3 separate regions of the Homo sapiens genome follow, and all the other regions are linked to region 1. The links come from fine-mapping of genetic effects on gene expression. A gene starts in region 1. Each other region holds a variant in brackets. All regions are shown on one strand. Distances are from middle to middle. Region 1 holds the start of CCDC81 (coiled-coil domain containing 81). Region 2 overlaps ME3 (malic enzyme 3). Region 3 holds the start of LOC105369421 (a long non-coding RNA gene).

What was found. PIP is the estimated chance that this variant, and not a neighbour inherited with it, causes the effect.
Region 2: its variant is fine-mapped to the expression of CCDC81 in monocytes after interferon gamma (Fairfax 2014, PIP 0.95).
Region 3: its variant is fine-mapped to the expression of CCDC81 in tibial artery (GTEx, PIP above 0.99). The same link has a PIP of 0.9 or more in skeletal muscle.

What each region holds. Positions count from the first base shown.
Region 1 is chr11:86,369,944-86,378,129 of GRCh38, forward strand. CCDC81 (coiled-coil domain containing 81) reads left to right here and starts at 4,944. Exons shown (of 15, transcript NM_001156474.2): 1 at 4,944-5,299. The coding sequence starts at 5,221. All of the region lies in intron 2 of LOC105369421 (a long non-coding RNA gene), which reads right to left. RefSeq lists a silencer at 4,684-4,978.
Region 2 is chr11:86,449,771-86,457,956 of GRCh38, forward strand. ME3 (malic enzyme 3) reads right to left here. Exons shown (of 15, transcript NM_001161586.3): 9 at 531-628; 10 at 119-232. Among named protein-coding and RNA genes, the nearest start is that of CCDC81, 79 kb to the left of the region's middle. The variant G/T (reference allele first, on the strand shown) is at 4,335.
Region 3 is chr11:86,393,697-86,401,882 of GRCh38, forward strand. CCDC81 (coiled-coil domain containing 81) reads left to right here. Exons shown (of 15, transcript NM_001156474.2): 5 at 1,638-1,717; 6 at 3,925-4,046; 7 at 6,982-7,105. It overlaps LOC105369421 (a long non-coding RNA gene), which reads right to left and starts at 2,404. Exons shown (of 5, transcript XR_007062826.1): 1 at 2,324-2,404. The variant A/G (reference allele first, on the strand shown) is at 3,072.

The sequences.
Region 1 (8,186 bases):
GTAAAAGCTCCCTGAGGCGTCCCCAGAAGCTGGGCAGATGCCAGCACCATGCTTGTACAGCCTGCAGAAACATGAGCCAATTAAACCTCTTTTTAAAATAAATTACCCAGTCTCAGGTATTTCTTTATAGCCATGCAAGAATGGCCTAACAGAGATATAATCTTCCTCCCCTTGAATTCCCATTACACTGTCTTCATGCCTCAAACATGACATTTAACATATGCTACGGTTTGATGTCCCCTCCAAACCTCATGCTGAAATTTGATCCTGGCCCAATATTGGAGATGAGGCTTAATGGGAGGTGTTTTGGTCATGGGGGCGAAACCCATGAATAGAGATATATGACCTCCCTCGGTAGGGAGTGAGTGCTCACTCTATTAATTCCTCAGAGCTGGCTGTTAAAAAGAGCCTGGCATCTCCCTTACCCGTCTTTTGTTTCCTCTGTCACCAAGTGATCTCTGCACAGCTGGCTCCCCTTTGCCTTGGCCTTTTGCCATGAATGGAAGCAGCCTGAGGCCTCCACCAGATGCAGATACCCAATCTTGAACCTTCCAGCCATTCTTAACTGTGAACCAAATAAATATGTTTTCTTTATAAATTACTCAGTCTCTCCGGTAGTCCTTTACAACAACACAAAACAGACTAAGATAAATCTTTACAATACAGTTGCAGTGCACAAATACATAATTTATGTGAATTCAAGTCTAAGTAAAACTTAAAGAGAATACTTTAAATTGAAATACTTTAGTTTTATCTACCAGTTCTGTATCATTCAGGTTCAATCAGAGAAGCAGAACCTGTAAGAGTGATAGAAAATATAAAATTTATTATGAGCACTAGCCCTTACATAGTTGTAAGAGCTGGTTAAGTCATCTCTGTCTGGTGTTGGCCTCTGTGTCTGGTGTAGGGCCTAAAGACAGCAAGGCTAATAGGAAGAAAAGATGGTCATGAAATGGGGAAGAATAAGGAAAGATTGGAACTGGTGAGAACAATCTGGAACCTACAAGTGAAACCGCCTTTGCAAAAATTATGACACTGAGAAAAATCTGACATAGGAAAATTATGGCAGTAAAAGAAATCTGTCCTAACCAACTCCATCTTGCTTCTAACCTCCAAGCTGCCCTTGTTCGTTCCCGGGCATAGGCTGAACTAACTTTGGGAGGAATTTATAGTTTAACTTTGAAACAAAGATGATAACAGCCCCTCCCTGAAACAAACTCCCTTCTTGCATGGGGACAAGATTGTTCTTTGTAAAACCAACAAATTAGCCACAAGCTCAGAAACCATGGCCTAGGAGTCATGCAGCCAGAGGCCACAAGATTGCTAACTTCCCCAATTGCCTCTATAGATAACATTACTATTGTAAAACCTAAGATTGGTGTTTGAGCCGATTTTTCTGACCCAGCATTCTGATGGGTTAGCTGGCACATTCCAGACAGAAAAACTGGCTCATCTGGTCTTGTGGCCTCCACCAGGAACTGACTCAGCACAAAACGACAGCTTCAACTTCCTATGATTTCATCACTTGACCCAACCAATCGGCATTCCCCATTCCCTAGCTCCTTTTCCACCAAACTAAAAAACCCTAGCCTCTGAATTTTCAAGGAGGCTGATCTGAGTAATAATAAGACTCCAGTCTTCCATTTAGCCAGCTCTGCCTGTATTAAACTCTTTCTCTATTGCAATTCCCCCATCTTGATAAATCAGCTTCATTTGGGCAGTAGGCAAGATGAACCCATTGGGCGGTTACACACAGGCAAACTAGATCCTGTGAGGACAAATTGCAACCTGCATCTGTATTTCCTTGCGTCCAACCTCAGTGATGTGAGGGACTTATAGGATTAGGTAGTACCTTTGGCAACACTGCTGCACATGTACCTGGTCTAAGATTGAGAGAAGCAGAATGAGGAGATCTGGCAGGAGCTGCAAAGCTGCAGGCCAGGCTGCTGGCCCATGCCTACACGGTGAGCCAGCAGGTCAGTGCCTGGCCCTACAATGACCTTTAGGGCTTCAGATCACATGGCTGCTGCTTTACTTCTGCCTTCCAAATCTCACACACATTCTCTTTTGACTAACCCTAACCTAGAATCATATAGGAAAGGGAATTCTGGAAAATGTAGTTCTATCTTGGCTAAGTTCACAGTCTATGAAGCTACCGCAAGTCTGTTTCTGCATAAATCCTTGAGTAAGCAAGGGACAGAAGATATACATCTGCTATATTTTCAATCTGTCTCAGTTCATGAGTGTGTATCATAGTGTAAGCATGGCACAGTGTTGAGTACATACAATTCTATTTGGTTGAATTTTTAGAATAAGACTGCTTTCCTAAACTCTAGCCAACTGTTTCATTACATCTCTCCTGAAGAAAGTGATCTGCTCCAGTGTGAGGAGAGAAAGACTGCATTGGGTCTATAAACTGAGAGATGGCATATGTGGGTCTCTGATATGGTCCCTTCCTAAGAAGGGATTCCTGGAGTAGTTTTCCCACATCCAATTTTCAATTTACACTTTAACTTTGAAACCCAATCCTGATTTTAGAACCTCCTGCAATAAATATTTGTTAAAATGGTGAAAAATGAATTGTGAACTTCTTATCTGTAGGGGTTTTCTGGTTAAGTGTCTGTATTCCTTTTAGCAACTAGCAAAGTGCTTGGCACAAATTAGGTACTCAATAGATGTGGTTAAATTATTTATTGCAAATTTCTATTCTGGTGTTGTATAATGAGTATTATGTTTTCTTTTTCAATAGTTTTTTTTTCCAAGTTGCCTTTAATATAAGCCACTTAATATTGTGTGTGCCTTGGGGCTTGGGTAAAAATGACTGCCCATTCAATGTGGGTTTTGCAAGGCAAGTTGGAGCTTGCAGAAAAGTAAATGTACATTGAAATACTTGGGAACATTTTGGCCCTGTTTGTTTCCTTCAGTGTTTGCATAAATCCCTACACTCTACCTGTACCTCTCTCTCTTCCTCTCTTTGGTAAATTATCTTAAATATTATAAAGTAATTCATGCCCTTGTTAAACAGTAAATAAAGGAGAAAAGTGAATATAAAAGTTCTTGGAATGCCTCCTCCACCATACAAAATTTTGCCTGATCCAAAATTCCACTGTTAATATTTTTGTGTATGTATCTTTCCTCAAATATCCCATATGTTTACAAAAATATATATGAATACGTATGCATACTTATATACTTATATTTGAAGGAAACAGGATTACATTATATAAAAATACTATGCTGCTACTGGTTTTCACTTACTATATTTTGAAACTTTTTCAACATCAGCACGTAAATGTGCAGTTTCCTTTTAAGTAAACTCTTGAAATGTATTCCAATGTATGTATTCACAATTTAACCAGTTCCCTATGATGGTCATCTTAGGCTAATTCTAAGAATTAACATTATAAACAATGTTGCATATACATATATCTTTGTATGTATCATGCTAATACATCCAATTTTATATCCAAATATATCCAAATTTGTAGCAGTGGAAGTACATAGTTTGCCTGAGTTTTAATAGCAACTGAAAAGTATGTATTTTCAGGATATATAATATTTATAGCTCATTAAAAGTTTCTAGTCAACACAGGGTTACATGTATCTACACAGCCTCTTTTGTCAAGAGACCTTTGACAAAAGGAAAGTAAAACCTTGGAAGAAAAGTCTTTGTCCTTATTCTTTTTACAGCTTCCTTTAGCCATCTACAATTCACTAATAATTAGCATCCACCACCATCTTCTGGAACTGAAGACAGCTTTTCTAGAGATTAAAAGTACCACTATATTTAATTCAAAATCTAATGTATTGTAAAACAATTATTTTTATAATTCCATTATCTTAATGTGGAACAATAATGCTGATATTGCCACTAAAAATTAGCTGGCATTATCTATTAAAATTGATCATATGCATTTCTCATGACCCATGAATCTACTCCTAGTTATATACACATCAGAAATGAGTACATCTATCTGTCAAAAGTGTTCTGTGAGACTGTTTGCAGCAGCCTTATTCCCAGTAGCCTCAAAGGGAAACAACGCAAATGCCCTTCAACAGTGGAATGCATAAATTGTGCCATACTCATAAAAAGGAATAATATGCAACAGTGTAAATGAAGAAATTATTACCATAGAAACTATGGATGAACCTCATAAACATAATGTGAATTTGAATAGAGCCAGACAGAAAAGGATACATACTATATGATTCCAAAGATTCAACAGGCAAAATGAATCTGCAGTATGTGTTGGCTAATGACTGGAGGGGTAATGAAGTGCTGATCTGTGCAATGTGCTAGCATTCTATTTTTTGACCTGGATGGGTTTTGCATAGGTATGTTCAGCTTGTGATAATTACCAGCAGAGGGGAGAGCATGCACGCAATTCTTCAGGATGAGATTGGTGACATGTAGAGAAAAGGGGGAAATGACTGTAGTTTAAAAAAAGTCAATTCCCTCCTCCCCACTTCTCCAGCTCTCCATTTCCTAGGAAGAGAGCCCAGGGAAAAGCAAACCAAGAAACAAATTCCAGCTCAAACTCAAACTCTCAAACAGATCTGGAGACTCAAATATCGATCTCTCTGGGCAAAAGGCATTCCTAGATTTGTCCAAGGTACAAAAACTACCACTCTAACCACGTTTCTTCGCTGCCCGGGGTCAGAGAAGTAAAAACCCATTATTTATTTATTTTTAAGTTACTTCCAACCTCGCTGCCTCGAGCTTCTGAATCGCCTGGGCAACCTGGAAGCCGCCCATCTAAGGGGGTGAGGTCGAATCCCAGCCTTGACGCCTTAGCAACCGAGCGAGCCTTTCTCGCGTCCCAGCAACGCGCCCTTCCCTCTGCCGGGCCTATTCTCCCTGGTGCCCCTCCCTTCCTCGAGGCTGCAGCTCACCCCTCATTGGGTCTCTCGTTGGTCAGGAGGGCGCGGGTCTGCACACTCTCACTCGGTGCCGGACATCAGTTCCTGCGGCTCTTGCTGTGGGAGCTGCCCGAGAGCCAGAGCAGTGGGGAGGGACGGCGAGAACCAATGTTTAAGTTTATTTAAGAAAGAAGAAAAAGAGTCAAGAAGTTCAAGATTTTCGTCACTCTTATTTTTAAGGCACATCCAAAGCTCCGTGGAGAAGGGGCTGGAGGGTGGGAAAATTATTTTTGTGCACATTCCATATAAGAAAGAAGAGACCCATCGAACATTCAGTACGGAGTCACCTGGAAATTGGAGATGTTGGATACGATCGCCCGTGCCCTGCAGGACCTGGGCAGGCAGGTGCTGCCCACTCTGCCCTCGCTGAGCCAGGAGGGTAAGCGTGTTGGGTAGCAGGGGGTGGCCCTGGGGATTGAATCTTCATCTGCTTGCAGGGGAGGCGGGGGGACCCACTTCCCAATTCCCTGGCTCAGGCCTGGCCTGCCGTGGCTAAGTTGCCTTGACAACCAGCTGGTAATCACATCCTGCCCACGTTGGACGCCCAGAGACCCTTTTCTGGTTTTGATTAAACCAGGGGATGCGTAGACAGCACAAAGTAAGTGCTCAATAAACGGACTAGCACAAAGTAAGTGCTCAATAAAGGTTAGGTAAAAACAGCCACTCCCACACCACTCGCTGGGATGGATCACAACCCTTTTGCCTACCTAGAGAAAAGAGATGCAGGGACCCTAAATGGCTCCTTTTGAGAGTTCATGCAAAGACGGTTGATTTTGTTGCCTTTGACATCATGCCGTTGTATTAAGAAAATGAGATGATCATAAAAAGCTACAGGGTAAGTACTTTGGAAGGGGACCTGGCACCTTCTCAGAGAAAACTCATTAGGCTTGGTTAGTAGCAAGACAAGATCTGTTTTTAGCATCGTTTGTAGAAGAGTCACCCCAAAGTGAGGCTGAGATCTGTCTGCAAACCACAGGAGAAGAGAGGTGCTGCAGGAATGCAAACTCATTATTATCAAACCATTGTAACTTAGAGATGTTGCTTAGGCTTTAACCAAATGACCGCAGAAAACAAATAGGAATGGCTGCTTCTTTCTCTTCCCCTGCATCACTCCTATCTTTTCCTCTCAAATCATCCTGAAAGATGCATTGAAGATAATGGCTTAATGAATTTAAAAACATTTGCTATATTTGTAAATTTATGTATAGTCATTCAAGGAATTCTGAAACCCTGCTATATGCTGAGCACTAGTTAACTTACGGTGAACAAACATCTTGGAATTTACTGTTTAGTGGGGAAGATGCACATTAATCAAATAATCACACAAATCAATGCAAATTTACAATTTAGGTAAATGATACCAGGGAGGAGGTAAATGGTACAGTAAGAACTTTTTTTAAAGATGATTTTTTAGGGTAGTTGTAGATTCACAGTAAATTAAGAAGGAGGGACAATATATTAGTTTATTTGTACACTGCTATGAAGATACTATCCCAGACTGGGTCATTATAAAGGAAAGAGGTTTAATTGACTCACAGTTCTTCATGGCTGGGGGAGCCCTCAGGAAACTTAAAATCATGGCAGAAGGGGAAGCAGGCATGTCTTACATGACGGCAGGAGAGAGAGAGAGAGAGAAGCCCGGGGGACCAGGGGAAACTGCCATTTATAAAACTCTCAGATCTTGTGAGAAATCCCTCACCATCATGAGAACAGCATGGGGGAAACTGCTCCCAGGATCCAATCCCCTCCCACCAGGCCTCTCCCTCAACACCTAGGGATTACAATTCAAGATGAGATTTGGGTGGGGAAACAAAGCCTAACCATATCAGACAGAGATGTCCCACATACTGTCTAATCCTACACTTGGATAGACTCTCCCATTGTCAACATCCCTCACCGGAGTGGTACATGTGTTACAATTGAACCTACATTGACACATCAAAATCACCCAAGTTTCATAGTTTACATTAGAGTTCTTTCTTGGTGTTGTACATTTTATGAGTTTGGACAAATGTAAAATGACATGTATCTATCATTATAGTCATATAGAGTATTTCACTCCCCTTTGTTCTGCCTATTCACCCCTACCCCTAATCCCAAAATCTGGAAACCACTGATCTTTCCACGGTCTTCATAGTTTTGCCAGTTCCAGAATGTAATATAGTTGGAATCATATAGTTTAAGCCTTTTCAGATTGGCTTCTTTCACTTAGCAATATGCATTTAATATTCCTCCATGTCTTTTTGTGGCTTGATAGCTCATTTCTTTTTAGTTCTGAATAATATTCCATTATCTAGATGTACCACAGGTTTTTTTTTTTTAATCTGTCCACCCACTGAAAAATGTCTTGGTTGCTTCCAAGTTTTGGCAATTATGAATAAAGCTGTTTTAAATATCTGTGTGCAGGTTTTAAAAAACTGGATATAAGTTTTCAATTCACTTGGGTAAATACCCAGGGACATAATCGCTAGATTGTATGGTAAGAGGATGTTTAGTTTTGTGAGAAACTGCCAGACTGTCTTCCAAAGGGGCTGTACTATGTTGCATTCCCAAGAGCGATGAATGAGAATTCTTGTCACTCCATGTTATTGTCAGCATTTGTTGTTGTCAGTATTTTAGATTTTGGTCATTCTAATAGATGGTGTATTGGTATCTCATTGTTTTATTTTGCATTTTCCTGATGATAAATAATGGGGAGCACCTTTTAATATGCTTGTCATTTTTTGATGAGATATATATAAAGGGCTTTGGCTCATTTTTAAATTGAGTTTTTCTTTTCTTTGTGTTTTTAAGAGTTATTTGTATATTTTGCATGACAGTGTCTTTTGCAAATATTTTTTCCCAGTCTGTGGCTTGTCTTCTCATTCTCTTGACATTGTTTTTCACAGAGCAGAAGTTTTAAATTTTAATGAAGTCCATCTTATTATTTCTTGCTTGGATTATGCCTTTGGTGTTTTATCTAAAAAGTCATTGCTATACCCAAGATCATCTAAGTTTTGTCCTATGTTATCTTCTAGGAGTTCTGTGGTTTTGCACTTCATATTTAGGTCTATGATCCATTTTAAGTTAATTTTTGTGAAAGGTGTAAGGTCTGTGCCTAGGTTCTTTTTTTTTTTTTTTTTTTTTTGCATGTGGATGTCCAGTTGTTCTAGCAATGTTTGTTTAAAAGACTATCTGCTCCATTGTATTGCCTTTGCCTCTTTGTCAAAGATAAGTTGACTGTATTTATATGGGTCTATTCCTGGGCTCTCTTTTGTGTCCTTTTA
Region 2 (8,186 bases), 80 kb after region 1:
TGCCCTCATTTTGCTCTCTATTCTGTTTGAGCAGTTGACTTCTTGGAGACCTCTTCCAGTCCAGTTCCTGGGAGCTATAAGGTGTCAGGAAACCTCCAGGTCTCCAGACTGACAGTACCTTGACAATGAGCCCTTTAGAGTCCACCATCCAGATCTTTCTTGTGGCCTCTGCCTTCGGTACACCTTCTTTCTCTAGGGCCATGACAAGGAGGTGGGCAATGCCCATAGCTGCCTGGAAGGTACCATAGGGTAGATGTTCAGACACAGGGCAAACAGCTGCTGAACATTTATCTGATGTCTTGCCATAAGGACCCCCTTTTCTTTCCCCCACCTCAATGACTCCCAGGAGGCCCAATTAAGTCCTTGCCTTGAGACACCCAATTGTCAGAGCCTAGGCAGCTGCAATGATCACAATATGTCTGTGCTGCTTCCTCTTTTCAGAACCCCAGAATGCCTCCCTTTTTTGGTATGCTTCCACCCATTCTTATTCTCTTCCTGGAGCAACCAAAGAAACCCTCAATGCCACATACCTCGCCTGCACCTTGGAAAACAAACACGTGATTGGAAAGCTTGTTCTTGGTGATTCGCAGAGCAGCCAAGATCCCTGCCACAGCAACGGAGGCTGTGCCTGAAACAGAGTGGCCTGAGATCAACCTCTGGCCACAGGCCGCCAGCTCCCAAGAGAAGACCCTTGGCAGAGTTCCCCACATCTGGGACTGTGGAGGAACAGGCAACTTTTCTTAGCCCTTATGCCCTGTAGGCATGCAAGTTTTGGTGCAAATCCATGCTCTCTTTTGCAGATAACTTTTTTGTTGTTGAAGTTGAGAAACAGCTCCTGATTTGTTACTTGACCCCATAAGATGGGATCAGATAGCCAGGTGCTGCTACCATCATCATTCATAAAGAAAATGACAAGGATAAATATAATGGAAGACAAAAAGAAGCATGAGCCTCATAGAATTATATAAGGGCTAAATGGATAAAAACATTTAAAAAAATGAGAACACAACCTGACCATGAGGCATTAAATGACCATATGGCCTGAGCTGCCCATCTTATCTACCAAGTCATAAGGTTGGCTGTGTCTGGTCGCACACCATCGTCAAATGGCTTGAGTATGTCTGGAAGGGACAAGTAAGTTGTATAAGTAGGTGGCTCAGATTCATTTGAGCCACTGCTACATGACTTCTTCTCCCTGAATCCACATCTAAGGCCTCACTGGGGATTCCTTAAGAGCAGCTGACCAAGGAGAAAAAACTTGGGCTTGGTTTACAAGTTGTTGTGAATAAATGTTGGCACCAACTAGAAGTGTAAGGTGGCAGCTTCACAGCCCCAATAAAAGGTAATGGTGAAGGACAGTGGACATGACTTCAAGTGGTAAATTTAGTTGTATACTTTGGTCCAGGGGATGGTTAGCACTACATTGATTCATGAGCAGTTGCTAATGGTTTAGCTGGATGATCAGGGACTTGGAAAGAACAAAATAGCAAGACTGGTGATAAGGAGGTCTGGGGAAAAGGTAGGTGGATGGACCTCTTGGGATAGGTACAGAGTAAGAGGATATTTGTGCCCCATGTGAGAGTTTATCAAAGGACATGATGAAAACAGTCTTTCAATAATCAGGTGGACAAAATGGCATGACCTATGTATGTTAGACAGCATCTTTCTTTAGTCACCCAGGGTTTGCTTAACGGACTTATGCATAAAACAGCCATGGTGGTAAGGATGGAGGCTATGCATGGGCTTCCTCTTACCAAGCTGGCCTGATACTGTTACTGTTGAATGATTAACCTGTCAAACACAGAGAACAATGCTGAGCTCCTTATGGGCACCATTCCCTGGGGGGGACCATCCACCTGGTGGCAAGATGATTGCAATGGATTACTCCCATCATGGACAGGAAAGAAATCTGTCCTAACTGGAGCAGATATACATTCTGGATATGGATTTCTTTCCTCGTCTGTAATGCTTCTGCCAGCACCATCATCTATGGATGTTTGGAATACCTATTTGCCATCCAGATATATTACAGACAGCAAGGCTTTTAATCAAGGACTTTAATTCACAGTAAAAGATGGGCAGCAATATGCTCATGCCTATGAAATTCACTGGTCTTAACATGTACTCAACCACTCAGGAGCAGCTGGCTTAGTAGATCAGTAGAATGGCCTACTGAAGAATTACCTAAGACTTAAGTAGAAGCAACACCTTATGGAGATAATGAGCTTCTGTTTTATGGGATGCAATGTATTATGACTTAGCAAGCAAGACATTGTGTTTTTCTCTCATAGCCAAAATGTATGGGTCTAGAAATCGTGGGGTGGAAATGGGAGTGGCTCCTCTTACCATTTCACCTAATAACCCACGTACAGAATTTTTGCTTCCTGTCTCTTTAATTTTGTGCTCTACTGGATTGGAGGTCTTAGTTGCCAAGAAGGAAATACTTCCATTAGGATTTACAACATGGTTCTATTGAATTTGGAGTTGAAACAGCTCCCTGGCCAGCTGGGGCTCTTCATGCCACTAAATCAGTGGGCAAAGAAGGGGATTACTTTTCTGGCTGTTGTGATTCATCCTGATAATCAAAGGGACAGTGAGGACAGGGAGGACTATGTCTGAAGCTTAGGGGAGTCTTCTAGGGGCGTATCTTCATATTTCTATGCTCAATAGTAAATATTAATAAATATATTGCAAGTAAGGATATTCAGGACTATGGAGGATTCAGATCCTTCAGAAATGAAGGTTTGGGTCACTCTACTGGGTAAAGAATCCCAGCCACCTGAGGTCCTGTCTGAGGGCAAGAAAACATGGAATGGAAGGTTGAGGAAGAAATTTATAAAAATCATCTTTGACTTCATGACTGGTTACAGAAACAAGGAATGTAGCAGCCAGGCATATTTTTCTTCCTTGATCATAATGTGACTATATATAATGGTACACATGGGCTAATTTCTTCTCCCTTCTCCTCCCTATTATTTTATATAAGTTCTGTTGGAGGTTAATTCCACATGTTAGTCTTTAGATAACAGAGTTTTCAAATGTGACTGAATTTTATGAGCTATTAATTCTGCTTAGAGGTGGATACAGTGACTGTCTTCCAGAGATGACTAAAATGTCTGTTGGGACATTGTCTATCCCCATGTTGGAGAAAAGGTGAGAATGTCTTCATTTGTTGGAAAAATAGTTGAATGTTGTGAGGCATTTTGTTAGAGGTTTTGTTTTTGTTTTTGTTTTTGTTTTTAATTTCAGACAGAATCTCACTCGGTCGCCCAGGCTGGAGTGCAATGGTGTGATCTCGGCTCACTGCAACCTCTGCCTCCTGGATTCAGGCAATTCTCCTGGCTCAGCCTCCTGAGTAGCTGGGATTACAGGCACCCACCACCATGCCCAGCTAATTTTTTGTATTTTTAGTAGAGACAACGTTTTGGCGTGTTGGCCAGGCTGGTCTCGAACTCCTGACCTCAGGTGATCTGCCTGCCTTGACCTCCGAAAGTGCTGGGATTACAGGCGTTAGCCACCACACCTGGCCAGAGTTGTTTTTGTTGTGTGGAAGTACACATGTGCCAGACAGTGTATATGGATGCTGGGTAGCCAGAAGGATGGACTGTACCAATTATTGGGTAATTGTTTATTAGCTTCTTTACACTGCTTTGTCTGCAAACCACTTTTCAGCTTTGCCAACTTGCTCTATGCTGGGCTCTGCCAATAGTAGGTGCTAGAGGGAGACAAAGGCTAGATGAGGGGGATAATATGCTTCCCCCCCACCACCCCAGCATCATCCATCTTGTTAGGATTGCAAGGTAAAATGTAGGACACTTTGTAAAATTTGAATTTTAGATAAACAACAAGATTTTTTTAAGTATAAGTATGTCCTATGCAATATGAGCATAAATACACTAAAAATTATTTGTTTCTAACACCAAAATTTAACTGAGTGTCCTGCATTTTGGTTTTGCTAAATCTGGCAGCCCCACAGCCTTAGTTCTTCAACTCCATGGCAGCAGTTTGTTCCTGAAGCAGAAGTTGAACCCGGTTTGCAGTTTGGCTGTCACTGAGAGAACTAGTCTCATAGCTGCCACTCAGTGACACCAACGCCACTAACTGCCACCTCCTCTTTCCTTTGTTCCCTTAGCCTCAGAAGTTGTAGCAGATCCTTAGTGTTTCTTTTTTGGCTTTTGAATTCTTTAATAGACAATTAACATTTTAAAAAATATTAAGTGTTCTCTATTAAAGCAAGTGGTATAGACTCTGATACAGAGAGCTCACAATAAAGTAATCACAATCAGCAACACTCCACGATGGTGAAACCAAAACAAAACAAAGCAAAAGGAAAT[G/T]AAAGTAGGACTATTTATGGCTTACTACATTTGGATAATTTAAAAAATTGTTGTCATCTATGGCTGGTGAGGAAGGAATGAAAAGTAAAATGTTCCAATATACTTTGTGTTTTAAAGTGCTACAATCTTTAGTGAGAACTGTTTCCCCATCTAGAGCAAAGGCATAAAATATTTTTGCCCTTTGACCTTATACTTCTACTTTTGAGAATCTCTATATAGAAAAGTCCAAAATGTATATACTAGGATGTTTATGACAGTGTTATTTATAATACAGAATGCCTGGAAATAACCTACACATCTAACAAAGGAGTAATGATTAAGTAAAGTAGCCAGTGTAGACACAGTAGACTGTTTTATAGCTATTAAAAATGATCATCATGAATATTATGCAGCAACATGGAAAATGCTGTGAAGCTAGTCACTAACATCAGATATTGTTCCAAGTACTTTATATGTCTTAACATGAAGACAGTTATTCATTTAATCCTCATTATTGCCATCCTCATTTTACAGATTGGGAAAATAAGGTATGGTTTGCTGAATTGTACAAGATCATATAACAGAGCCAGGATGTGAATCCAGGGAATCAAGCTCTAGGGCCTGTGTGCTTAAGCACTAACCTATGTTCCATTGAGTTGGCTGGAAGGAAGAGAACATTAAATAGTATACATTTATCACACACATAGAATCCAGAAGGAACTTACAAAATACTAATGGTTGCAGGGTGGGAGTATGAGTGAATTTTCTATATTCTCTGTTTCTAGTTTTCCAGGTGGCTTATTTTTAGCTAGCTCTAGGGTGGGCCTTCTCCTAGATTTATACTTGGCTCAGTGGCTGAGATAGGGGGTACAGCAAACAGTTGGTGGCCAATAAGTGCACATTCATCATTGTGGACATCAGAAGGCGGGACTCTATGCAGGATCATACTTCTCAGAAGATGGGGTGCAGGCACCCCTGTCTTCACACAGCTGTGGCCTAGAGGGAGTGCTGAACTGTTGGCAGTGTCACAGAGACAGGGCTAAGGATACTGGGACTTCCTAACATCCTTCCCATGGTCTGCAAAGTACACAGTGTGCACCCTCTGAGGGCCTACAAAGTGACAGGCACCATGCTAGGCACTGTCGAAGACAGATGAATCAAACATGATCCCTGCCATCAGAGAACTCCCAGTTTACTAAAACTTGGGCACAAAACAGTAGAACACAGTGGGTAGTCAGAGATCACTGGAAATTGTTACATTCATTTATTTTTTGAGCATCAATTATGAACCAGGCTCAGGTACTGAGGATACCATGGTAACAAAATAGACCAAGCTCATTTCTGTTTGTAAGGAAAGAAATTACTAAATGATTACAAGTGTGATGGCTTTTATAAAACAGTTGTTCATGACATACTTTTTGTTAGTTTATGTACAGAAAAGTATGTTATCAGTATCAACCTACCTCTGCAGTGCCTCCCCGTGTACTCCATGTACCAGTAGCTTTATTCATTGTTCCCTACACATATCATGCATGTTTATACTTAGGTACATTTCCCCTGCTATTCTACCTATCTAGAAGACCATTTTGCAGTTCATTATTCCTTAAGACTGCCCAAATGATCAGCAAGACATTCCTTGCTACCCCAGGCATCCTTAACCATGCCTCCTTTTCCCATATCTACTTTTTTATCTAACCTGAATGAAGCTGGACTATATCATGGTCAGGCTCAGCACTGTACTGCATTCAAAAGAAACACCAAGCTGACATCCAAGGAAGTATCAACAAGCAGTTTAAATAAGTATTTAAATCACTTAAAGAAAGGGCGAGGAGAATTGCATTGTATGACCCTCTTCTGAAATCCCCAAATCCCCTTTGTCCTTAATTTTCTCCAAAGTCCACTTATTATGTGGCACTCCCTATTTTCTCTGCCTCCCTCCAAGTAACTCCATACTTCTTACTCTCCGCCCATAAAACTCTCTTTCATTTCAGTTCTACGGAGTCAGAATTTGTATTTAAAAAGATCTCCAGATGATTTGTATGCCATTCCAGTTTGAGATGCACTGAACTAGATGGCCTCTCTAGGTGAGGTACTAGTTTCCTGCCATTGGCTAGCGGGAGTTTTCTGCTCATCGGAGTCTGTTTCAGGACAGCCTTTTGCCTCCCTGAAAGGAGGGGTTGCGCAAAGCATTTGCCACCAGATGGCGCCAAAGGTATTCCATCAGAGATGATCCCGCAGACACTACACTCTGGATGGGTCTTTTTCTTTTTGGGTGTCAACCGTCTTCTGGGGTTATTTGCAGGTTGAATAACTGGGCTTCCTCACAGAAATTCGGTGCTGGATGGGGATTGGAGATCATGGCATTTAACAGTTGTACAGATGAGGAAATTGACAGAGAAAGGTGGCTTGGCCCTGTCAGTCACCCAAAGCAAGGAAACCTGGGGGTTTCCTTCCCAGGTTTGCTTCCATCCCTTCATGATCTCTGCTGCTCAGACAGCCCTTCCTGACTATAGTTGAAGGCAGCAGGAGAGGTGTTATGGGGTTTCTCTGGGGAAGGACGGAGCAGGGTGGTAGCAGAGGCAGAGGGAAGTGAACTTAGGCAGTAGATGTCAACATTCAGCTGTACCTCTGGAAGGGGAGGGGAGCTCAGAACAATGGGAAATCTGATGGGAAAGAGTCACACATTACAATAAAAGGATGCAAGGTCAGCTGCCATTTATTGATCACTCTTACTGTGGCCTTGGCTCTGTGCTGTGTGCTTACCAGCACAGGATTTGCTCAATTAATCTTCCCAACAACTCCATGAAGTAGGGACTACTGTGCTCCTATTTTTTGCCCTTAAAAGTGGAGAGTGACGCTCAAGGGAAATGGAACTAATCAGGACAGAACTTCTGAATCCTTTCACCACCAAGTCTTCAGACCCTCTGCCTCCAATGTCCAAGTACTTGCTTTTCCCCCTGTTACCATCGATGCCTCCCTGCTTCTAGCTAAAGCACCACTTGTCTAATGGATCCCATCATTTTTGCCTACTTGTCCCATTATTCCCACTCCTATTTCCTGCATATTCAATTTTGCCCTCTCTACTGGATCATTCTCATCAGCATACAAATACACTGTAAAACTTCCATCTTTAAAAGGCCCTCCCTTGGTCCTATATGTCCCACCCTATTTCTTACTCTCCTTTATAGGCAAACTCTTCTAGAGAGCTGAATATATTAACTGCATCTAGTTCCTTCCTCCTTGGTCCCCATGAAACCCAGTCCAATCAAATGACTGACCCACCTCTTGTCAGGGTCCCCAAGTACCTCCAGGTGGCCAAATTCAGTAATCAGTTCTCAGCCTTCTTCTTTCTTGACCTCTCAGCAGCATTTGGTACTGTTGCCCATTTTTTTCCTTTGGGAAGCTATTTCTGCACTTGGTACAGGCCAGAACTCAAGAGGAAAAACAGTGGTTCTTAAGCTCCAAATTACAAAATTTGGCAAATAAAGTTATCTCCATCATTAACCTGCATTTTTGGGGTGCTCTTGGGCTATGCACTAGGGGTTTAAAACTGGAAAGGAAGCTACTTAGCTGTTTCGAGGTAACCACTCTGAGAAGCCCATGGGTCCAGGGATGTGCTGGAACATGACTTGTGCCCATAAATGCCATGGGCAGCTGAAAGTGTGGCAGGTTGTTCCTATTCATGGTAAAAGAAAAAGAAGTTTTTTTTTCCAGAGGGAGATTTCCATAATTACATTTCCTGCAAACTGAGTACTTGAGGTTGTAGCTTCAGGAAATAGCACAAAAGGACATGCTGAAAATGTAGTTTCTGCTTTTAATAGTCAGATTTGACAAAGTTAAAGGAGTTGCCATGCTGAACAATAGATTATTGGA
Region 3 (8,186 bases), 24 kb after region 1:
ATTGTCAACCATTAAGTAGCTGGTGTGACCTTCATGCTAAGTTGGATACAGCAGAGTTTAAACAAATGAAATAGTCAATCTACCAGACTTACTGAATACTTAGTGTGCCTCAGGTACTCCTCTGGAAACTAACAAAGTAGACATGAATGAATTGAATTATTATGGAATGTTATATAATCCTATATCCCATAAAGCCAAACTCTGATTTTTTTAATGAAAAGGCTATTAATATCATCTCAGTCTACCCATTTCTCCTTTTATGAAGCTTTGGGATGGGGATTTAGGAAATGAAGTTGTGCATAATGAAACTCCTGGTGTTTTCTACACAATCTGGTTTCATACAGGATTGCTAAGAGGATTGCCAACCCTGTGTGTGGAAAGTGGGAAACACATGCAGGAAAAACCCTTGCTTTTCCATGAAAACACAAGGCAAGATTTGCAAGTCCATAAGCAAGGCCAAAGTGGCTAGCTCATCTCTAACCCTCAGGGATTCTGCTGAACTTTGTAGCTTCAATACGTGTTTAAAAGAGAAGACAGCATTTTCCTTGACCTGCTGAACTGTAAAGCACATCTTTTACAGAACGTTTTCCAAAAGAACTAGTCCTGAAAAATACTCTATGAAAAAAGGGTTTGGAGGTCAAAGCTGACTGAAAACTGCTGATCGAATCAGTCACCCTCATGGACAGAGGGACAGAGCACATCAGCATGTTAAAGGAGCTGAGAAGTCTGGCTGGAAAGCAGTCAGTTTAACTGCCTGAATGTATTTAATCATGGAATTGTAGGTTAATCCAATATCTCATTAGCTCTGTAAGACACATTTTGGAAAACTGCTGTGAAGTGGTGTGAGTGAGAGTTTATTCCCAAATGACCCGTAACTTAAAACTGTCTTGTAGGGTAGTCCCCTTGGAAAGCTGTGTGCTTATTTCAGTAATGCTGCTTTTATTAGAAATATTTTCTATACTTCTTTTTGGGAATTCACTTCAAAGGCTTTTGTAAGTGATAGCATTCATGCAAAAATAATAATTTTATATATTATTCTACAGTTAAAATGTGACAATGTGACTATTATGTTTACAGTTACATGAGAATTAAAATAGTCATTTGTTCAGTATTTACTATGTGCTAGCTACTTACATAGAGGACCTCATGGAAGTGCTATTAGATCCTTTTATTATCCCCAGAAACCTAGTGCCTAAGGCCACATGCCTGTTAGCAGTGTGGGGATTTGAACATGAGCCCACCTGACTCGAAAGCTTTTCTCTTAATTGCCTAATTTTAGTTATTTGGGTCAAGAGTGGAATTAGACAGCTTGCTCACTTTCCAGATATTTTTACAAAGTCTGCTATCTTCTTAAAGACATCTAAAAGAATCTGTCAACTCTGAAGGCAATTCCCTAAAAGGAAATGGTTTGAGAAAAGGCAACACCGAAAGAATTGCTGTGCAGCTACCCAGGGTGATTGCTCTGATGAATGAGATCATTCCTCATTGGATTTTTAAGCTCTGGACTTATAAGCGCTTAACATAAACAACAACAAGAAAAGTATCGTGGTAGCCTTGCCTATGAGCCTGCAGTTTTTAATTTGTCTGAGTCCTGGACCTCAGCCTAGATGTAACCTTGCTCTGTTGCTGTCCTCTAGAGGCCTGGCACTGTGGACTCGGTGTTGTCTAGCAGAGAGGCCTTGAGGAAGTGGCCCAGCAGTGTGCTTGCGTTTCCAAGGTGAGTGCTTTGCTTCACGGGTTCCTCTAGGCACTAGCACTCCTTGCTGATCTGCTGATCTCATTGGGCAGTGTTTCTCAATGTTTTGTAGCTCATGTTCCTTTTAATGTATTCTGTCTGTCTCTCCCTCTCTAAATCCACCAACAAAGAAGAGTTTATTGCATACACTTTCTGTAGTTAAGTTAAATAACAATGGACATTTATTCTTTTTTATCCCCCCTCACCGCGACGGAGTCTTGCTCTGTCACCCAGGCTGGAGTGCAGTGGCACGATCTCTGCTCACTGCAACCTCGGTCTCCTGGGTTCAAGCAATTCTCTCCTGCCTCAGCCTTTGGAGTAGCTGAGATTACAGGCGCACGCCACCATGCCTGGCTAATTTTTGTACTTTTAGTAGAGATGAGGTTTCACCATATAGGCCAGGCTGGTCTCGAACTCCTGGTCTCAAGTGATCCATCCGCCTCGGCCTCCCAAAGTGCTGAAATTACAGGCGTGAGCCACCAGGCCTGGCCCATTTACTCTTTTTTAAAACTACCCTTGGCTCCTGGAAATTCTGATACTACCTTCCATTAACCTTAGTCCCTGCAGTATTAGTAAAACTCTTCTCACCTGCTGAACTTTCCACTACTTTGTACCACTTCTTCTGCCCTAGCTGCTGCTTCTTCCTTCAGTTCAGCCCATTTCCTGTCCTTGCTCGGATTTTTACCACTAAACGGGTTAAACAGATAAGTTAGAATAAGGAAACAGCTTTACTCCATGAGCACAGTGGTTGTTACTGGTGGTTGCATATTACTGTATTTAATCTTCACGACAACCATGTGACTTATGTATTATAATTCTCCATTTTATCATGATACAAAATTAATTTTAATTTTTTTCTTTTACATGAATGAAGCAACATGGTGCACTATTGAGAACACTGGAGTAGGAGTCAGGAGACTTTAGTTTTATTTCCAGTTTGGCCATCACTTATTCATTGTGTGCCCTTAATTATGTTAATAATCTTAATTGCTGTGCCATTAACCACTGTGCATTTCAGGTGGAGGAAGTTTGGGGAATAACAACTAGCTTCCTAAAGCATTATTACTTTAGGAAGTATGAGTAAAGTATAAAAGTATGAGAATTTCTGAGATGTTTTGAGTGTGACATTCTCTTGTTTGTTGCTTTGGAACAACCCCCTCCTGGAAGAGCTGTATGACACATACCTCAGAAGATTCAGTGTGAAGTCCAGAGTAAGCCTTAGAGGTTGTTTTCCAACCGCCTCATCTTGCACACGAAATGGCCATGCAACTAATAAGCAGCCAAGCTTATAGAAATAAAACCATGGCTCCTGGTCCAGTGTTCTTTCCATTGCACC[A/G]TATTGCCTTACTCACTAAAAATAAATCAGTGGATTGAAAAGAATTTTATTTTGATGGTTTCGGAAGGCAAACATGGCTGTTCCCTTTGACATATTTTGGCTTAGGCACTCCAGGAGGGAAATAATTATAGTGGGTCAAAGAACAGAGATGGAGTCGCCATCAAGTCAAGGGCCTAGAAATGGACATGGGGACTTAAATACTCAAAACAATTGTTGGTGTTTTATTTATGTGACATTTGGCCCCTGAATTGACTGAAGGTACCCCCACCCCCACTCCCTACTCCAACCTAGTACTCCATACCTGAGGCCAAAGAAATCCTACAACTACACACACCAACTGAACATCCCCCTTCCTCCCTGCTGCAAATTGTAGCTTTGCAAGTCCTTCACTTTTGCCTGGGGAGAGAATGATGAAGTGAAGTGGCAAAGGAGGGAGGAGACAAATGGTTATTTTGGGGCATACTCTACCAGGCTATGAATCTTTGCCTTCAAGCTATCCAACAACCTTTTTTCCACTGTATCACCCCATAGCATCTAGTTAAAGAAGTAGGATATAAAAATTCAAATTGAAACAAAAACCAATAACCTAAATAAAGGACTTTAAGGCAATTTCTCTATATGCAAGCTGCTTTGAGACTATGGTATAGAGGGAAAGGCCTTGGTCAGCTTCCAGAAAGCCTTGGAGAAAATTAATCTATGATATGTACTTAGCACATCAGAGCACTCACCCCTTGAAGAAAGTGGGCTTATTTCAGAATCAGCCAGCTGGCTGGGTTGCTTCCAAAACTTGAGAGTTCACACAGTTACCTGTTCAGGTTCAGTGCAGCAGAAAAACATATTGGCTCATTCCTAGGATTGAGCTCAAGGAGATGGAAAACAAACTGCCTATGGAGACCCTTGTAGAAGAATGTGGAGAGAATAGAGAAAGGAAGTGCAAGTTAAAAGACCAGTCAGACAAAGAAGAAGGCACCAGAGGTAGGCCAATGATTTCTGGGTCCAATCTGTCACTCTTTACTGCTATGAGCCCAGCCATATTGCTTAGCCCAAGGTAAATAAAGTTAAATTTACAAATAATCACTATATTATTATTACTTTTTTTTTTGAGATGGAGTCTCGCTGTTGCCCAGGCTGTAGTGCAGTGGCATAATCTCAGCTCACTGCAACTTCCACCTCCCAGGTTCAAGCGACTCTCCTGCCTCAGCCTCCCGAGCAGCTGAGATTACCATCATGTGCCACCATGCCTGGTTAATTTCTTTATCTTTTGTATAGATGGGCCAGGCTGGTCTCAAACTCCTGGCCTGAAGTGATCCGCCCACCTAGGCCATCCAAAGTGCTGGGATTACAGGCATGAACCACCGCACCCAGCCACAAATAATCACTATATTATTTCTAACAAATACGTTCTATTCCTAGAATCCTGCATTTGACCTTAATTATGAGCTTACTTACTTTATGAGCCTTAGATCCTATGACTCTCAGGCTCTTAGATCATCATCTCTTTGCTGGCTCCCCATTGCTCAAAGGGGCCAAAACTCAGATGACTGCAGGCAGGTAACGCAAATGCAGGAAGTGGTCTGGATGTAAGTGGGTTGGAGACATGTTAGCTTAGTTAACATTTCTAATGAAAAACAAAGAGTGGCAGTTTTATCACTTTGATGTCTGTAGAAGAAAGCTGGATTCTCATACCTATGTCTGCATCTAATCTGTTGTGATAGGTTGTTTTGGTGGAAGCAAATGAAGAAAATCCTAGGACTCCAAAGATTTTTTTTTTTTTTAACCAAAGACTTTTTATTTTCTTTTTGAGATGGAGTCTCGCTCTGTCACTCAGGCTGGAGTTCAGTGGCACAATCTGGGCTCACTGCAACCTCCGCCTCCTGGGTTCAGGTGATTCTCCTGCGTCCAAGCTATTCTCCTGCATCAGCCTCCCTGGAAGTAGCTGGGACTACAGGCGCGCACCACCACGCCCAGCTAATTTTTGTATTTTTAGTAGAGATGGGGTTTCACCGTATTGGCCAGGCTGGTCTCAAACTCCTGACTTCAGGTGATCCGCCTGCCTTGGCCTCCCAGAGTGCTACAATTACAGGTGGGAGCCACCACACGCAGCCACAGACATTTTGAAAGGGTCCTAGGGACCCCAAAAAGTATGGCTTGCCAGGCCACACTTTGAGGACTGTTCCTCTAGCAGATTGTTGCTTTGCGGAAATGTGGCCCAAGTGATATCAGATCTTCTAATTTTTCTAATTTTACTATATGTGCTACTAAAGTGAGCACAATCTTCTGATTTTTCAAAAGAAGCAGAGATCCTGACTTTAATGTAAAATCTATTGGCTGTTAAAAGTTGACGACTTTTGTTGATATTGAAACAAAAAATGCTAATTAGGCCAAACAAAACATACCAATGGGTGAACATTGGCTTGTGCATGTCTGTTTTCTACGTGTGGCCTACAGGATTGCATATCAACTTTTAGCCTAATATTCATATGCTTTTATTTCTCTAGTCTCATCTCCCACTGTGCCCTATAGAGACCCCTTTTTTGGGAAAAATTATCTATTCATGTTCTTCTTTTTCTTTGAGGTGGGGTCTTGCTCTGTCACCCAGGGTGGAGTGCACTGTCTTGGCTCACTGCAGCCTCAACCTCTTGGGCTCAGGTGATCCTCCCACCTCAGCCTCCTGAGTAGCTAGGACCACAGGTGTGCGCCACCATGCCTGGCTAATTTTTGTACTTTTTGTAGAAACAGGGTTTTGCCATGTCGCCTAGGCTGGTTTTGAACTCCTGAGCTCAAACGATCTGCCCACCTCGGCCTCCCAAAGTGTTGGGATTACAGGCGTGAGCCACTATGCTTGGCCTATTCATGCTCTTCTAACATGCCTGCCCTTCCCCAACTTCATCCTTTTGTTCATTTTTTTTTTCCTGCAGCCTGAATTGTCCTTCCTTTTCTTTCAATCTATCTCCATCCTACTCACCTTTTAGTACCCTTTTCACATCTCACTTTCTCCATGAAAACTTATCACTGAATTCTGAAGTGGCTTCTCTCCTCTGAACATATCAGATCCTTAAAGACTACAACATTTGGCTGGGCATGGTGGCTCACGCCTGTAATCCCAGCACTTTGGGAGGCTGAGGTGGGTGGATCACCTGAGGTCAGGAGTTCGAAGCCAGCCTGGCCGACATGGCGAAACCCCATCTCTACTACTACTACAAAAAAAAAAAAGTTAGCTGGGAGTAGTGGTGTGCACCTGTTATTCCAGCTACTTGGGAGGCTGAGGTGGGAGAATTGCTAGAACCTGGGAGGCAGAAGTTGCAATGAGCTGAGATTGGGTTACTGCACTCCAGCCTGGGCGACAGAGTCAGACTCCATCTCAAAAAAAAAAAAAAAAAAGAAAAAGACTGCAACATTTATTTGTGACTTATACATTTTGCATCACTGTCCTAAGTTGTTATTTATTAAATGTATATTATAAAGCACTTAGCACTGTTAGCACATAAGATGACCTCCAAATGGGAGCTCTCACTTTTTTGTTTGTATCTTATTTTTCTCTTCAACTATATCTATCGAAAGATCTTTACAGGCAAAATGTCTAAATCTACAGATATCAAAGTTGTAAAACTACCACTGTTCATTTTTCATGAGAAATGTTAACTAAACTAACACGTCTCCTGGTCATGTTATATCCAGCCCACTTCCTGCATTTATGTTATTGCCTCTTTTTGTCCTCTAAATGCTTAGCACAGTGCTTTCTTTGCGAATATACAGCAAAAACATTTTTTTATACCACAATAGAACAAGGGGTGATTATTTAAAGATAAGAGAGTGTATCTTATATGAAAATTTCCCTTGGTAAAAACTACACAGTTAGTGGTTTGAGAGTTGAAAGGAGACTCGTTTTCATTCATTCTTTATTCTACAGATATCTCATCACCCAAAAGACTTCGAGATAGACAAGCTTTGTTCCCTGCCAAAGTGACAAATGTCAGCTTGCTGGAAAAGTTTGAACGAAGTGAGAGTGGTGGGAAGATTATGACCCCTGAAAGGTAATGCATTGACTTTTTTTTTTCTGTTGTACTTTACTAAATATATTTTTGAGTCGTTGCTTGATGCGGGGAACTGTAATTGTTCATTAATTCATTTATCCAGTGTTCTTTAGAGCTTTCTATATGCAACATGATGGGAATAATAAAGGTGACCAAGGTTCACCATCTAGTGGGAAAGCCAGACATATGCAGAGGGATAAATTACGATTCAGTGGAATAGATGTTATGACACAGGCGGAAACAAAATAGCACAGAGTTGGGATCATCCAACTTTTTCTGTAGATTTGGGCTTCCCAAATCTACAAAACTTTCATGTTTTCCGAGTGCTTGGATATTATGATGTGACACAATGTTATATTTACATCAAATTGGAAAGTAGTTTTGCCAAACATAGCCAGCACTCCATTAGTTCTCAATAAACATTACTTGAATGAATGAGTGTATTACAATTTATCATGGTCGTTTTCTTCTTGTGATGGTATGTCAAAAGATTTCTAAAATATTTTATCCTTCTCTCTGAGTAGGATACTTTTTAAGACCTCAAATCAGTCAACCATACTCAACCATGCTCATTCATTGTTTACTGAGCACCTAACTATGTACTTTGCATTGTGCTGCCAACCTTTAATTTATTAATGTGTCAAAATTTATCAGCTATCATATGTGCAATTTATGTACTTTGTGGATTACTAAAGTCATGTTAAAAACTCTAGGAATGCTTGTTTTGGATAATATCACTGTTATGAAAGATAATTGAGAATTAGATGTATAGTACTTGGGAATTTAATTCAATACAACAAATATTGAGCACCACCATGTGCCAGGTAATATTCTAGGCACTGAAGATTCAGAGTTACAGATGTATAAACCTGCTTTTATAAAACTTACAGTGTTGCAGGAAGACTGAAATTAAAAAAAAAATGCATGCGACGAAGACAACAAAAGTACAGAGGCTGCAAAAGGACAGAGTAATTGTTGGAAGTGGTTGGTAAAGGTTTCCTATAGAAGTTGACTCAAAAATGTTTGTTTCCTGTAGAAGTTAACCAAAAAATAGGCCAGGCGCAGTGGCTCACGCCTGTAA